Regions from separate parts of the Homo sapiens genome. Here region 1 is linked to region 2. Evidence: fine-mapped expression QTL. Tissue or cell type: blood mononuclear cells. Region 2 holds a variant in brackets; the other region holds the start of a gene. All regions are shown on one strand. Distances are from middle to middle.

Region 1 (8,192 bases), 84 kb before region 2:
AATTGAACAATGTAGAACATGAATAAGTAAATAAAATGAAACTGAAAATAGTACATTGATTTATATAAAACTATTATCTGTCTAAGATAGTCATTACTTTTAGGAACCACATTCAATTCCCAGATAAACATGACTAGAAGTGTCCTTTTAGGATTAAATTTTGAAGGTTTATCGTCTCTGGGTATTGATTTTTTTTCTATTAGCTTGAGGTAGTAGAAAACTTGCCTCAGAGTTCTTATTATTCTAATTTATACACACAGTTCCACAGTTAAAAATCAGTTAACATTCTCCATTGACGTCTGCTTCTAATTTACAGAATGTTGATTTTCGTATTGTGTAGAGATAGGCAGCCTTTGAAGGTCTATCTCACAGGTCCCACCTTACCTCTTTAACCTGCCCCCTCTCTCCATCAGTCTCACCTGCAAGGCCTGCAAATCTGAGAAGGTCTTGTCAGGGATTGTGTGAATGCCATTGCTGTGAAGCATGAGTAACTCCAGTTTGGTCAGGCCAGAAAAATCTGTTTCCATCAATCTAACCAAGCTGTTGTATCTGAAATAAAAAATGACATTCTAGGCATAAGCTAAGTCTGTCAACTAAAGTTCAAATGTCATAACCAAAATAAACACAAGAAAACTCAATACCTCTCTTTATAACTGTACTCTATTGAGACAATCAAATGCTTCAAAAACTGAAATTCACCAGATGCCACAGAAGGTCGGCTCTCTACCCAGTTCTTGCCATTTCAGTTACAATCACCCCCCTCATATTCTGGGAACTTGTCACATTTCTTATCATTTTCAAACTTTTATATATATGCTGTTCCCTCAGGTTGGAATGCCCTTGACCTCACCTTTTTCTATTTGTGAACACTTAATATCTAGCCCATTCTTTCATGACACTATCTCCTCACCACTCCCCCAGGTGGAATTCGTCAGCAGTGGTTAAGAAGCCTGGGCTCTGGAGGCCAGGCTTGGGCGTCTCGTTTGGGTATGATTACGAGCTCAGGCTCAACAGAGTAGTGGTACAACCCTGGGTAAAATCAGCAGGCTTTCTGTGCCTCAGTTTCCTCATCTATAAAATGTAAATAATAGAACTCACTCCAAAGGGGTTATGAGGATTAAATGGATGCAGTGCTTAACCCAATGCCAGCACCTACTGAGCACAACCTTAATGTTAGCTCTTAATATTAGTGACTGTCTCTAAAACACTTTGTATGCTCTATTAGTTTTTATTAATTGTACTGACCGTACATTTGTCTGGTCTTTTTAACGATCAATACACATCCTAGAAGTGAATAGTATATCTTACCATTGTATCCCCAGTGCATAGTACATGCTCACTAATGTCAAATAAACGATGCTAAGTCCAACATGTGTATTCAGACACACACAGACTTTTTTTTCATGAACGTTTAAAATACAGTCATATTTTTAAAAATTTAATTAGGCATCCATTTTAAATAAGTTTGTATGGAAAGAAACCAAAGGGCCTATAAAAAGGATACATATATATATATATGTATGTATGTGTGTGTGTGTGTGTATTATATAGGCAGACACTTCCAGTTACCCTGTCATCTCTTATGATGAATGATCATAACCCCAATAGTTAACAGAAACTATATCATTTTCCAGCAAAAATGTAGCCAGAAAGAAGCTTTTTACCGTCATGAGTCTCCCAACCTACCAAGAGGGACTTCAAATTCTAGAAGAACTTTCTCCTAATAAAAGTTTACCAGGAAAAGTTTTCTTATTGCCCCCAACAAACAAAATTCTCATGAGCTCATTTCAGAAAAGAAATATTGTTAAAACAATTGAGATTCATCTCCCAAAGTCATAGATGTTTGAGGGACAAGTCACTGCTGCGACTGATCCCTCTTTGAGAAGAGGAAACATGAGGTCTCACACACCCTAAATTGATGCGTTCCACATTGGGCGGGATGCTGTCTGGGATGGAAGTCAGGTACCGAAATGTGCAGTGTACCTCCGTAGGCATATAACAGGCACAGCGGCGAGGACAGGCCTTGCCCCCAGGGGTGGCGACCAGGCAGATCACAGCAAAGGAGACCAGCAAGCAGGTGATTCCTCTGCCTTTTACCTTCATCCTGAAAAAACATCATACCTCAGAGTTATAAAGAGTGGTGGAGCAAAGTCCCAGGACCACCACACACTCACTCTGGGAATCTGGGAGACCTTCTTTAAGGGTCGTAAGTGGTCAATTCCATTCCTACCCTTTGTGGTCATATGCACTCTTTACAAAACTATAGTGTGTGCTGCTGGCCTCACACTGCGCTTTATGATCAAGTGGGATATTTACTGTTGTGAAAATTTCTTCACAGCTTCTCACTTCTTTATGAAAACCAGCAATCCCTATTACTCAGGCATTCATTAAAAGGGAAACTGGAAACCATAAGAAAGATTGTGACAACTAAAATATATAGAATTTAGTTTCCTTTATATACATTAATTCTTTTAGAGTAACTTTCAAGAAACTGATTATAACAGTAATATCTGTGCATAATAAAACATTTGGAAACTGTAATTAAGCAGTAAAAAGGAAAAAAATTACTCAATCTCACCACTTATATAATCCTTAAACATGTTGTTGTATTCCTTTCCAGCCTTTTTCATCTATTGTGTGTATATGTATAGGTGTACATACATTTACGTGTATATGTGTACATGTGATCAAACTCAATTTTGTAACACATTTTATCATTTCATATATAATGTTTTTTCATTTTATTAAACCTTCTTCAGAAACATTTTTTAAAGGTTGTAATAATCCACTGGAAGGGAGAATAAATCTCTTTCTAACCGGTTTTCAAGTCCCTGCCAAAAAAAAAGACACATTGAACACTTCACTGCCAAGTAATGACCATAAGCAACAGCGACTGACCAGCTGAGAGGGCTTGAGCCATGCTGACCCTGTGCAGGCATGATGCTGTCTGCTTTTGCTCAGCTTCGGACATCTCTCTGCCTTTTTCCTTGGTCCCTCCTCCAGCTCATGGCTGCCACAGGAGGTGGGGAGCATAACCAGGGAAGAAATATGCTCAGCTTGTCAGAAAAAAAAAAATGGTATCTGTTACCCATATGTGGGGCAAGCCCAGGAATTCAAACCTAATTCTCTCCTGAAATGCAGGATTGAAATAAACTCTTTATTGTGCTTTTCCAAGCAAAATGACCTTCATAATTTGTAATAAATCCCACCGTTCTGTGGAACAGCATGATGTTGGATTCCACCAGCAACCACCCTTTAGCTACAAACTACACTGAGAAATAACACTGGGGCTGAACTGCTTGGATTTTCATACAGATAAAAAGATGATGGATGTATTATTATAATTTAGTCCAAATTAAAATTTAAGATAGGATTAATCATATGACCACTTTTGCCATCGTAACCACCTGGTTACAATAATTTTAAATAAGCTTTGTATGATTGGAGACAGCATTTCCACCTTATCATTAGATAAACAAAGGAAGGAACAGCAGGATGAAGGTAATTCTCTCGTTCAGCTTAAATAAAAGTTCTGGGTATGCCCACGTTCAAATTATTTAAAAGAGGATCAATAGCATAAGACAACACATGAATAAGGGATTCTCACAAACGTAAGGCTGAAAATGTACATAATGAAATAGGAATTGGCAATACCTGAGCTCTTCTTTCAGGTCCTGAGTCCTCTTGTGACATAGGCAGAGACAGAAAATCTTCCCAGGAAATGGAAAATTGTGTCCAAACCTGAGGGAGGAAAAGTTCTCTGCTCCAAAGTGAGCAAAAAGCCTTATTCTTTTTGGCTTACAGCCAGGAGTAATGCTCTTCAGGGAGACCTGGAGCCGCTTCCACAGCTTCAAAGTTCTATAACTCATAACCACATTAACCCAGAAGCGTTCTTTTATTATGATGCTTGCTGTTGCAGAAACAAAAGGCTAAGTGGAGGTTTTTAAATTTCCTTTCTCCTCCCTCAGTAGTGTACTTAATACTCCTTAAAGTTATCACTTGAATATTAACTACTACTAATCACTCCATTTTGCTCCAAAGTCCCAAGAGCTTCTCCTCAAATTGTCTTTTTTGGACAAATCTGTCACAGATGTCTCCATCTATTGATTGTCTTTCCTCAGTGTGTGTTTTTTTTTTTTGCCTGGCACCAGTCACCGAAGAATTGTCGTGTGCTTTCATGCCCCCACCTTCTCCGGGTGCGTCTTCCCTCCCCCACCCTCAGCCCTCCCCGCCCCAGCGCCCGCTTCTGCAGCCACGGTACTCGCTCCATTCCCACGCCAAGCCCCAGCCGGCGTGGGGTTCCAGCCCTTTCCGGGGAAGGATTGGCCGAGGCGCTCACCTGTTTGCCCTGGTGACCAATGGGCTCGAGCTGCCCGGGCTAGGTCCCGGGCTCGGTCCCGGGCTCAGCTGCTGGGGTCGTGCGGAGCTGGTCCGGAGCTCTGGGAGGGAAGGAAGGAAGGCGGAGCGAGGGCGGGGGATGAGCCCGACTTCTGTGTCTGGGGACGCGGCCGGGGCTCAGCAGCACAAGGATGAGAAACGACCACCGGGCCCCTCTTTATGTTTACGAGCGTGTGGGAAGCTAATTCGCCGTGGCTTCACTCTTTAAATTCCCAGGGCTTTCTCCTAGCAAGTTGGCAGGTCCTGGCTGGGTGGCAGAGCAGTTTCAGTGGCCGCCCGTTCATTTCCTCCTTGACCTCTTCCACCTGTTGACAGGTGGGCCTTTTGGTTTAAGGGTTTACGTAAATCGCCGCAGGCTGTCCTTGGTCCTGTGGCTCCCAAAGTTCTATTTGAAGGCTAAGTTAGCGTTAATGACCTGTGATACCTGCAGTGTCAATGTTTTATTTAAACCCCTCTTTTAAAAATAAGTAAATTATATTGCGTATATTTAAGGTATACAACATGTTATGGGCTATATACAGATAGTAAAATGGTTACTATAGTGAAACAACATATCCATCATCTCACATAGTTACCCCATTTTTGTTTTTGTGACACGAGCAGCTAAAATCTACTCTTTTAGCAAGAATCCCAAATACCATACAATTTTATTAACTATAGTCCTCTTGCACATTAGATCTATATAAATGTATGCTACTGTGTATTCTCTGATCTACATTTTTCCATTTCCTTTCTCCAACCCCTATAACCACTATTTAATTCTCTATCTCTGTATAATCGACCTTTTAGAAAAAGATTTCACATATATAAGTGAGATCATACACTATTTTTCTTTTGGTTTCTGGCTTATTTCACTTGGCATAATGTCCTCCAGGTTCATCCATGTGTGACAAATGGCAATATTTCCCTTTTGTTTTTTAACTGCCAAACAATATTACATCGTATATAGATGTCTCAGAGGAATTCTTTTAAATCATTATCACAGAACCGGATTTAAATACTACTATTTCTGCTTGGATTACATTCTCCTTTCTCATCTCCAACCCTACCATCTGGAGGCAGAGATGCCTCCAGAATCACCTCTACCAACTTGCCCACATGTAATATCTCCTGCAATTCTTGGTGGGGCTCCCAATACTCATAAACACTGAGTTAACATAACTAAAATGACCTTGTTTCCTTCCACGTAGTTACATAGCACTTAAGCTTTTGATGACAATTTGCAATGAATGTTTTAGGGCAGTGGATCTCAAGATAGGGTCACGGGTCCAGCATCAGCATTACTTTGGACTTCGTTAAGATCAAAAATTTGCGGGATCCATCCCAGACCCACTGATTCAGAAACTGTACGAAGGAGGCTTAGGAGTCCATGTGTTAACAAGCCTTCCATATGATTCTGATGCAGCTACAATGTGAGAATTGCTGGTTTAGTGAAATAACTTCTGAAAAATGTTTTACAAATACCAACTCATTTCAGCCTCACCATAGCACCAAAAAGCCTAAAAGGAAAGTATTTATGTTATTCCCATTTTACAAGTAAGGTACATGAAGGAAAGTGACAGAACTCCAGGCCATGTGGCTTGTGAGTAGAAAAGCCGTTAATTCAAACTCAGGCAGTCTTGCCCTATGGTCTGAACGTTTAACCATAAAGTTGTGGCTGCCTCACTTAGCTAAACATGGATAATGTGCCATATCCCATGCCGAGCATTCATGTGATTTATGGTTAGTAATAAGTCAGTTACCAAAGTAGAATTATAGAATCAGAGACTCAGAGTTAGAAGTAACCCTAGAAGCATGTATATGAACATGGTCTTTAGCTCTGCAGAGCTGACAAGATTCTTTTAAATTAAAAATTCACGTGATGTCCAAACTTGGATGCTTGCTTTGGAAATGTGGCATATTTGTCGGGTTTTGGCAGCCACAGTTTATCTTTCTCCCAAAGCTCCTTGGTGACCAACCTCATGGCTTCGTATTCTTTAGTCAATTTCTAACCCAGGTCTGGACTTCCAGACCTCAACTAGGATGAACCACAGAAAGATGACAGCAACATGTTAAACTTATTTTCCTAGGCTTGTTACCTGGGGTCATTTTCTTGCTATCAATTTCAAAGTGAACTCCTGATAGGAATGTTTGCTTCTCTTAAGAATTTTTATGAGATAAATCTCTACAATTGCTTTATGTCAGAGCTCTTCTCTGACGTATTTTCTACTTTTCATGTCATCTTCCAGAATTATTAGAAACCTGAGTCATATTGGCACCAATTCTAGTTCCATTTGCTCCACTTAATAACAATTCTAATATTTGTAATTACTTTTATAGTTAGAGTATATATGTGTCAAAGCCTTTATATGTATTGCTTAATTCTCAGAAATATTCTGATGAGTAAGTGCTAAAATTATACCAGTTTTTCAGATGAGATTGCTGAGGATAAAGAATGCTAAATGATTCAGAGCCAAAATACAATACTGAATTAATTTTAAAATTGTAAAACCAATGCTTTTAAGCCTTACATTTTCTGGTTTTTTTTTTTTTTTTTTTTTTTTTTTTTTTTTTTTTTCTGAGACGGAGTTTTGCTCTTGTTGCCCAGGCTGGAGTGCAATGGCGCAATCTCGGCTCACCACAACCTCCACTTTCTGGGTTCAAGCAATTCTCCTGCCTCAGCCTCCTGAGTAGCTGGGATTACAGGCACATGCCACCATGGCTGGGCGCAGTGGCTCACACCTGTAATCCCAGCATTTTGGGAGGCCAAGGCGGGAGGATCACCTGAGGTCAGGAATTTGAGACCAGCCTGGTCAACATGGTGAAACCCCGTCTCTACAAAAATACAAAAAAAGCCTTATATTTTCTATCTTCTTCCTGCTTCTATTTATAAAATTTGGAGAGTCCACAGCATATCAAAGAAAAGTTTCACCACTCTTTTTTCTAACCATGCTTAATAATGCAATATGTTTCTATAGATTCATATGGTTTACAAATCACTTTCACCTTTGAACATGGCCTCATTTAATAAGAAATATATGAAATTCAATGATAATGACTTTATTTTGTAATTGTAACTTTATTTTGCAGAAGTTAATTGAGTGTATAATTTGCCAAGATCTCAGAGCTGAGCATAGCGACTCTGAGTTAATTGTCAATCTGAACTCCTAAACCTGTGTTTCCTGGACTACGGTAATTTACCTACGCTTTAAGGATGGTTTGACATTTTAATTACCTCTCACTATAGTTTTACCTAATGATTTTCTTTAAATCCTCCCCCTCTTTTTGTTACTCTTTTCTTAAACAGTATTGTTGGTAAATTCTCAGGCTTTGTATTTTTTCTAGTAAACACGACAATAAATATACATCTTCTTCACCTTTTATATCACCCCTGAGAATTACATTTCCCCTCATCTCTAGGTCTTTGACATTATTTGCTGTCTTTTCTAGTAATTACTACTTCTTACTCCTCATCCTTAATTTATCATCCATACCATCCTTTACATCACCCTCCTAATCAGAGTATTTATTTAACACCAATCAACCAAGCGCAAGCAGTTACAAGTCATAGATCACCTGACAATCAGAACAAGCTATGAATTTTAAAACTGACTTATATATGTGTCAACAGATAACCAAATGCCAAAATTGTTACATATCTTTTAATCAGGCACAATCATTACCACCTCCCAGCTCCACAATTTTCATATTATTCAATTAACCAAACAGTCAAGACCTCCACTGAGTGATTCCAATAGCAGTGAAGTAGACTGACATCTTAGCCCTTCCTTTTTTGAAGTTACAGACTAGCACGG
Region 2 (8,192 bases):
GCAGTGTGTAACTAAACCACAGTGTAGTTATCCATTCTACTTTTGATAGCCTGTGAGAAGTTGACAGTTTAGAGCTATTATAAATAGTAGTGATGTGAACATTCTTGTTCGTACCTCTGGTGCACATATATCTATGTACTTCTGTTGACTCTATGCCTACAGTGGTATTGCTGGGTCAGAGGGTATGTATTTGTTTGGCTTTTGTGGATGTTAGCAGTTTTCCAAAGTGTTTACTAGTTTATACACCCACCAGCAGTGTACAAAAATTCCAGTTGCTTTACATCCTCACAAGCCTAGTCCCCCACGAAAATGCACACGAACCAATCCCTGCAATCTGTGAATATGATACCTTGCATGGCAAAAGGAACTTTCAGAGCCACAGTGGAGATCCACTAGTAATTTTGTTGCTCTCTGAGGATCTCCTCAGTTTTTCACTGTTGAACCCTGAACAACCATCTACATTTTAAGTGTGAAGGTTACAGAAGAAATTATTGGAACAACTGCAGAGGGGAGACATCAGAGGGAGTTCAGTTCCAGATAGTGGAAATCATGCTGAAGTTTGTATAGTGTGTATGGAACAAATGATTCCGTTTAAGGTTAAAAAAACAAACCTTAAAATACCCTCAAAACCTCAGTAGTTTAATTAAGTTCATTACATCTGATGTGATTAGCAGTAAGATTCATAAACTATCAGTTTCTCCTACATCAGTCATGTTTTTGACTGTCCACAGTTATCTAAAACATATTTTACAAACTTCATGGCAGAAAGTCAGATGTGTCTGTTGAAGTAGAATGACTTCAAGACAGTATATCTTTACATTATATGGGAGGCTAACAAAACAGTAAAATTTGTTATGATACAGAGCTGAGTCATGTCAAAAAAATCATATTTTAGAATTTGATGTCAGTGAGATTAGCTAGCACACTAAAGTTCTTTGTTTAATTTGCTAGGCCATAAATTCAGTTTTCTTATAGTCATATAGATGAGATTTAAACACATTACTGAGTAAACAAAGTACTTTTAGAGGTTTGCTCATGGTTGTATTTTAAAGTTGACACTATTCTTTTAGGAGGCTGATATTTCTAATTTTATATTGTCCTTTTTGATAAATTGGCTTCTCTCTCTCTGCATATGTTTTAGTTTTTTCTTTGTAGTATCTCTATTTTTTATTATTTCATCTTACTAATACCTCCTCATGTCTTATGAAATTCATCATCTTTTCCTCCTTCTCTCGAGGACATACAGAAGTACAATACATAAATACATATACATACATATGTGTGGATGAGTGGATAGATAGATGTATGTCTGGGGCCCAAGCTAGACCAATCAGCTGTGGAGAAAATGGGGGTCAAAGCAAGCTAAGCATGGCCACTTTCTCCCTTAAGAAAAGCAACTTTCCTTAGAAAGGATTGTGTATGCGGCAGGTAGCATGACCAATGTTCTTAACACATTCTTTGGCTTCATTTTAATCTCTTTTCCTGAGTTGTTCCTTAAATTACTGTTGCTTTCACACCCAACTCCCTTCTCCTCTCATTCACGCTTAAAAATTTCCCAGGTGATCTTATTTATTCAGTGGCTTTTACAGCACTTGCTTTATCTCCAGCCCAAATGACTTTCAGGTACTCCAGGTTCTGGCTATCACACAGGCACTAAACTCAAAACATTTCAAAATAAATCCATTATTTTATATATCCAGGCTGCAAATGCTTTTCTTCCTGTATATCTTATGTCAGAACCATAAATGCATATAAATACTCATTTTCTTTATATATAATATTGGACATAATATAAGACACATATAGTAATTTTTTACTGTATTTTCTCACTATAACGAAAATCTCCCTTACTTTAACATAAGTAGAATTCATTCATAAGGATATTTTAAAGTAAGACAATACACAGAAGTATATAGGGATAAGCAAGTCTTCCTCTCATTTCTGACCTCTGTATTCTAGTCCTCTTCCTCACAGGCATCGACTCTTCTCAACATCAGCTACATCCTTGCAGGGATACCCTTTGTATAAATATATATGCATGTGTATTTTTCTTAAAATTTATATTCTGCTGTGGATACATTTCTTTCCTTGTTTTTCCACTAACAGTATAACTTGAATACTTACTATAAAAACAAAATAAATGTTTTTAGTAAGAAATGTTTATAGTAAGAAATGTTTATAGTAAGAATTTACATAAGGAAAACTTCTTATAGTTTCTGATTTGGGTTCTTAAAACTAACTATACTGTAATCCTGTTAGATTACGTCCTTTCAAGGAGGGAATGCTTAAAGTTACTGTTGATGATTGTAATTTGTTTTATATACTTTTGTCTTGTTAAAATCACATGTTTTTATTAAAGGTATTTTTGTACTTTCCTCACCTGCTGTCTAGAGGCCACACAATTTTAGCTTTTTTTCTGACATTGCCACTGTATTTCAAAACAATGTGCTCATCTTTAAAAATGTGCTTTATCTTCACCAATTCTAGACATCGTCTATTGATATTTTTGTTCAAAAATGATTCAGCTCATTTATAAAATCTCTCCTACTAATTCCCCTAGTCAATTTTTCAATATAATTATATCAGAATTTTGGTTTAATTAAGGCTAAATTTTACATTATGAATATTTGTAAGAATTCTCTCCGTAGTCAAGGAGACTAAGTCCATGATTATCATTTGGGTTTTCCTGCAGTAAATAAGTATTAGGTTCAGGGGTCTGGGTCCAGCCTATGCTGCCGTCCAAGGGGAGGAGTGGGTCGATGGGCAGAAAGATCACTCAGGGGGCCATAGGCAGGTGAAATGCAGTTTTATTCAGCAGCTTTTTCATCAGCAGCTTACCCACATTAGCTCTCTTACACTGTCCACCTTTATCTTGGATGTCTGCTCCAGCTCTGTGGCTTCTACTACCCCCACACCTGCAGCTGCACAGCTGGCTCTCCCTTGCCTTCAGGGTCAGCAGCTTAACTCTTTCTCTCTCTGGGCAAGAGCACGAGCAGTGTTGTGCCATGCCGTGCCATGCCAAGCTGTGTCCTGCCTCCCCTCTGTTCACCTGCAAGATGAACAGCTTTGCTTGCTCTCTCTCTTTCTCTGGGTACCAATGCCTGAACAAAAGCCATGACCAGTCGAGCTGAGCCAAGCCCCTGTGCACAGTGTCAGCAGGGCAATTACACCTTTTACAGACAATAGTGGCTCAGAGCCAAGTATGAACTTACACAAATAGGTTATATAACAAGTGGAGGTGTGCGTCTGCCTGCCAAACTTG[C/T]TGAGTCATGCAGGCCTGGATATCTGCCTTGGCCTATTCCTTGATCAAAGCATATCCATGTACCTTACAATAAGTATCTGTTTAGTTTTCTATGTAGCTATTGATAATTTCCCCCAACTCCCTACCCCTAAGTGCTCAAACAGATCTGTCAAATGTCTTTTCTTTTATTGAGACGGAGTTTTACTCTGTCACCCAGGCTGGAGTGCAGTGGCACAATCTTGGCTCACTGCAACCTCTGCCTCCCAGGTTCAAGCAATTCTCCTGCCTCAGCCTCCCAAGTAGCTGGGACTACAGGCACATGCCACCACGCCTGGCTAATTTTGTATTTTTAGTAGAGAAGGGGTTTCCCCATATTGCCCAGGCTGGTCTTGAACTCCTGACCTCAAGTGATCCACCTGCCTCAGCCTCCCAAAGTGCTGGGATTACAGGCATGAGCCACCACACCTGGCCTGTCAAATGTCTTTTAATATTTCCAGTGTACTCAAACACATCAGGACTGGGTTTGCCTAGGAGAACATTCTGCAGGGGCCCTCTGACTGGCTCTAATTGCTCCTGGTGGCTCTCCAGGCTGCTGCAACACAGCAGTCTTTCTGGGGTTTTCTCTGCTCTCACCTCCATAGGATTTCCTGTTTTCTCTACCTCACATCTTTCTTTTGGTATAGCAACCTCTAAAGCTTTTCAAGAAAGAATGCATGGAATGTTTGAAAATATATATCCAGCTTCCATGTTTGAATGACAGTTTGATGGCTTAAAAATTCTAAATTGGAGAGCATTTTCACTGAGAATTTTAAAGACACTGCTCTATATTTCATTCCCTACCCACCTACCCACCCTGTTTTAGTTTTGCTGCTGAAAGTCTAATGCTATTTGATTTCCAAATCCTCTGTTCAATGACCTGTTTTCTCTTTCTAAAAGTATTTAAGATTTTCTCTCTTTTTTTTTTTTTTCAATGCCCTGGGGTTTGAAATGCATTGTGATGTCCTTTGCTGTGTTTTATTTATTGTATTATGCATGCGATAGGCCCTTCAATCTGAAGATTTTTGTGTTTTGGTTTTGGAAATTGTCTTATTTTACTTCTATGATGATTCTTCTCTCCTTTGTTTTCTCTGTTTTCTACTCTGGAACTGTTATTAGTTTAGCTATTGGGTCTTCTATACTGATTCTCTAACTTTCTTAATTTTTAAATTTTCCATCTGTCTCTTGGTTTCTGAGACATTTTCACAACTTTATCTTTCATATCTGTTGAATTTTCTATTTTAGTTATTCTACATTTAAGTGTTTTAAAATTCTTACTTGGATCCTTCTTAATAGCCTTTTGTTATTGTTTCACAACTGTAATATATCCTTTAATCTTTTTGAGCATATTAGTTACATAATTTTGAAAGTTTTTTTATGCTTCTTGCATATTCTCTTTTTTTCTGGGCTTGATTTTCTATTATTGTGGGCCTGTTTTCACATTAGAGACTTTTCTCAAACACCTGGCAATGCTTGGCTCCCCACTTGTAGTTAAAAGGAGGCCCTGAGAAGCAAATGGAATCACTGAGTGCAGTTTGGCAGAATTCACTGTAGGGTAATAAGGCAGCAAGGTGCTCTTCTCATGTAGGAGATACTAAGAGATTTTTCTCTTGAGCTGCTCAGTTTCACAGTGAAGAATTCTATAATCCTCTGCCTTGCAGCTTTGGAGGATGAAGCAAGGCCTTTGCTCTGAGTGCTAAATAATAGGCTTTCTATCACTTCCATTGTTTTTGGTCTTATGGTTTAGCCCAATTTCTGTGGTACTTTTGACCATCAAGTCCTGAAGTTCTCTAAGTTTCCATAGGGAAAATTGGCTCAATTCAAGCTGCAATCCCTCTGCAGGTGTCTGCACTTTAGCATTCCTGCACTTTGCTTTGTCAAGAACCGGCCTTCCATCTGTTTGTTATTTATTTATATTTTCCAATTATTTATTGGCATTCCTCATCTGCTGTCATCTCCTCACCTTTCTCAGCTTTGTCCTTGAATTTGTACTTTAAAAATCATTTGTCAATTTGATAACATTTTTGGATGGAAAGAAAATAAACGTGGTGAATATTTGTTAATTGAAATTGTCATGAATCAGGAAGAAGCAAAAGGGTGCTGAAGGGTAACTGGTTAGGAATCTGTAGTGCAGGGGTTAACAAATTACTGCTCCCTATCCAAATGTTGCTCGCAGCAGATGAGCTTAGCCTGGTTTTTACATTTTTAAAGGGTTGTAAAACAAAACAAATCAAAACAAAACATTAGATTAGAGATCATATGTGGCCACAAAAAAAAAAAAAAGCCTAGCATAATTGTTACCTAGCTCTGTACAGAAAGATATTGCTGAACCCAGCTTTAGTGCAGTGGTTCTCAACCTGGGAGCATCAAAAACAGATCTATGACCAGGTCTCACTCTGGACCATTAAGCAAAAATCTCTGTTGGCAAGGCTCAGGGGGTGATATTAGCATGCAGCGAGACTATTATGAAAACCCTCTCCTACCAAAATACAGCATTATCTACACCACCAAGATACCACCACCATCCCACCAACAAGAGCAACTGATAAATTTCTATGCTTGTTATTTACTATTTATGTTTATTTACTTTTTGAGACAGGGTTTTGCTCTGTTGCCTTGGCTTCAGTGCAGTGGTGTAATTATGGCTCACCATAGCCTTGACCCTCAGGGCTCAAGCGATCCTCCCACCTCAGCCTCCTGGGTAGCTGGGAGTACAGGTGTCCACAACCATGCCTGGCTAATTTTTTTTTTTTTTTAATATTTAGTCGAGATAAAGCCTCAGTATGTCGCCCAGCCTGGTCTCAAACTCCTGAGCTCAAATCCCTCCTTGGCTTCCCAAAGTAAGCCATCATGCCTGGCGTATGTTTATTTTTGGCAACATTATATACACATAAATTGCTTGTACAAGCCTGATGATTAAAGTCAAAGTCCTCTGTGTCCCTCTTCCCCATTCTATAAGTATAGCCTCTTTACATTTTTTAAATTAATTCTTTTCTCCATATTTCTTTTTTTTGAGACGAAGTTTTTGCTCTTGTTGCCCAGGCTGAAGCGCAATGGTGCAATCTCGGCTCATTGCAACCTCCGCCTCCCGGGTTCAAGCAATTATCCTGCCTCAGCCTCCTGAGTAGCTGGTATTACAGGCAACTGCCACCACGCCCGGCTAATTTTTATATAATTAGTAGAGATGGGGTTTCACCATGTGGACCAGGCTGGTCTTGAACTTCTGACCTCCGGCGATCCACCCCCCCCTTGGCCTCCCAAAGTGCTGGGATTACAGGCGTGAACCACCGTGCCCGGCCTCTTTTCTCCATATTTCTAAATAATATGTTTATATTGCTTCTTCAGGATTTTTCAGTTTTAGACATTTTCTATTAACTTTCTACCATGAAAAATAAGGATTTAGTTCCCTTTCACAACCACACCGTCCCACACACATGCAAGCTTCCAAGATCCACTCCATCCTTTTTAATAGTTTTCATTAGAACAATATTCATTTTGTTAAATATGTTCATCAGTATGTAAATGCTTTTCACAGCTGAGCAATGCCATAGCCAGTGATTATGTTCTTGCACAATTATGTTCTTCCTGAAGTTAGTAATTAATCTTACTTTTGACTCCTCTCCTTAGTTTTCCATATATTATATAAATATATATATACACACACACACACACACACACACACACACGTTATTCAAAACTAAACTGTTGCCAATTGTCTAGGTCTTCTCTCAGTATAGACATCATGTATTCTATTAATATCATGTTTGTGAAACAGCTTCTCCTAGAGCCTGGACTGGAGGCTTACTGTACCTGGTGCATATTTGTCATTGGACTCTGGTTTTCCTCTTTCAGAGATGTTCTTTGCCTCTGGGTTGTATGGAGTACTCTGGTTTCTAGAGCCCAGATATTCTTCTTTCTTGGTTTAAGTCTTCATCTTGGAGCAAATCCATCAGTAACTTTATGAGAAAGAGTGCATGGGAGACAAATGCTCCTGATATTGCATGTCTGAAAATGTAAAGAATCCGCCGGCATGTTATTTACAGTTAGCTTGCAAATGGAATTCTAGGTTTAAATGTATTTTCCTTCATATTTTAATGGCATCAATCCCTCACTATACAACTTCCAGTTTTACTGTTTGAGCAACCTGAAGTCATTCTAGTTTTATATGTTTGTGGTGTGGAAGATTGTATTTCCAAAAATGGTTGCAAAATATCTTTGTCTCACATGCTTTTCTACAATGTGACCTTTCTACTCTCCCATTGAGATGTGTGTACCTTCCCTTTGAATCTGCATGGCCAGTAATTTGCTTATATCCAACACATTATAGTGGAAGTGATGTTGGGGTAATTTCGAGGCTAGTTTAAAAGAAGCAGTATGCCTTTTGCCTTGTTCATGGGGACACTTGTTTGCGGAACCCTAAGTGGCAATATAAGAAGTCTGACTACCCTAAACATTATGCTCTAAGGAAACCCATGGCAAATAGAGAGGCCTCATGGGGTTCCTCTGTCAACAGCCCCAGCTAAGGTTCAAGCTGACAGCCAGCATCAAATGCTAAATATATGAGTGAATGAGACTTCAGATGATTTAAGCCATCTGTCCGTCATCTCTAGTTGTCTTCCCAGCTGAAGTCACAGACATTGTGGAGAAGAGATAAGCCATTCCTACTGCGCTCTGCCTAAATTACTGACCCACAAAACCCAAGAGCATAATAAAATTGTTGTTTTAACCCACTAAGTGTTGGGAGAATTTGTTGCATGACACTAATGACTGGAACAGTATGTGACTTTTAAAAACATTTTTGAAAGCTCTTAGGATTTCATTTTTGTTTTTCAGTGTCCTGAAAGTTTATGATGGCTATTTCACTCATTGTAAGTCAACCCTTTCAATGTGAAAATATTCATATCTTTCAGTTCTT

Evidence for each region. PIP is the estimated chance that this variant, and not a neighbour inherited with it, causes the effect.
Region 1: it holds the start of IGSF10, and the variant in region 2 is fine-mapped to the expression of IGSF10 in blood mononuclear cells (TOPMed, PIP 0.95).

The regions. Positions count from the first base shown.
Region 1 is chr3:151,456,607-151,464,798 of GRCh38, forward strand. It overlaps IGSF10 (immunoglobulin superfamily member 10), which reads right to left and starts at 4,455. Exons shown (of 8, transcript NM_178822.5): 1 at 4,340-4,455; 2 at 3,655-3,741; 3 at 1,910-2,104; 4 at 420-549. The coding sequence starts at 2,103.
Region 2 is chr3:151,540,497-151,548,688 of GRCh38, forward strand. It overlaps a transcript of IGSF10 not described here. Among named protein-coding and RNA genes, the nearest start is that of LINC02066, 7.6 kb to the right of the region's middle. The variant C/T (reference allele first, on the strand shown) is at 3,263.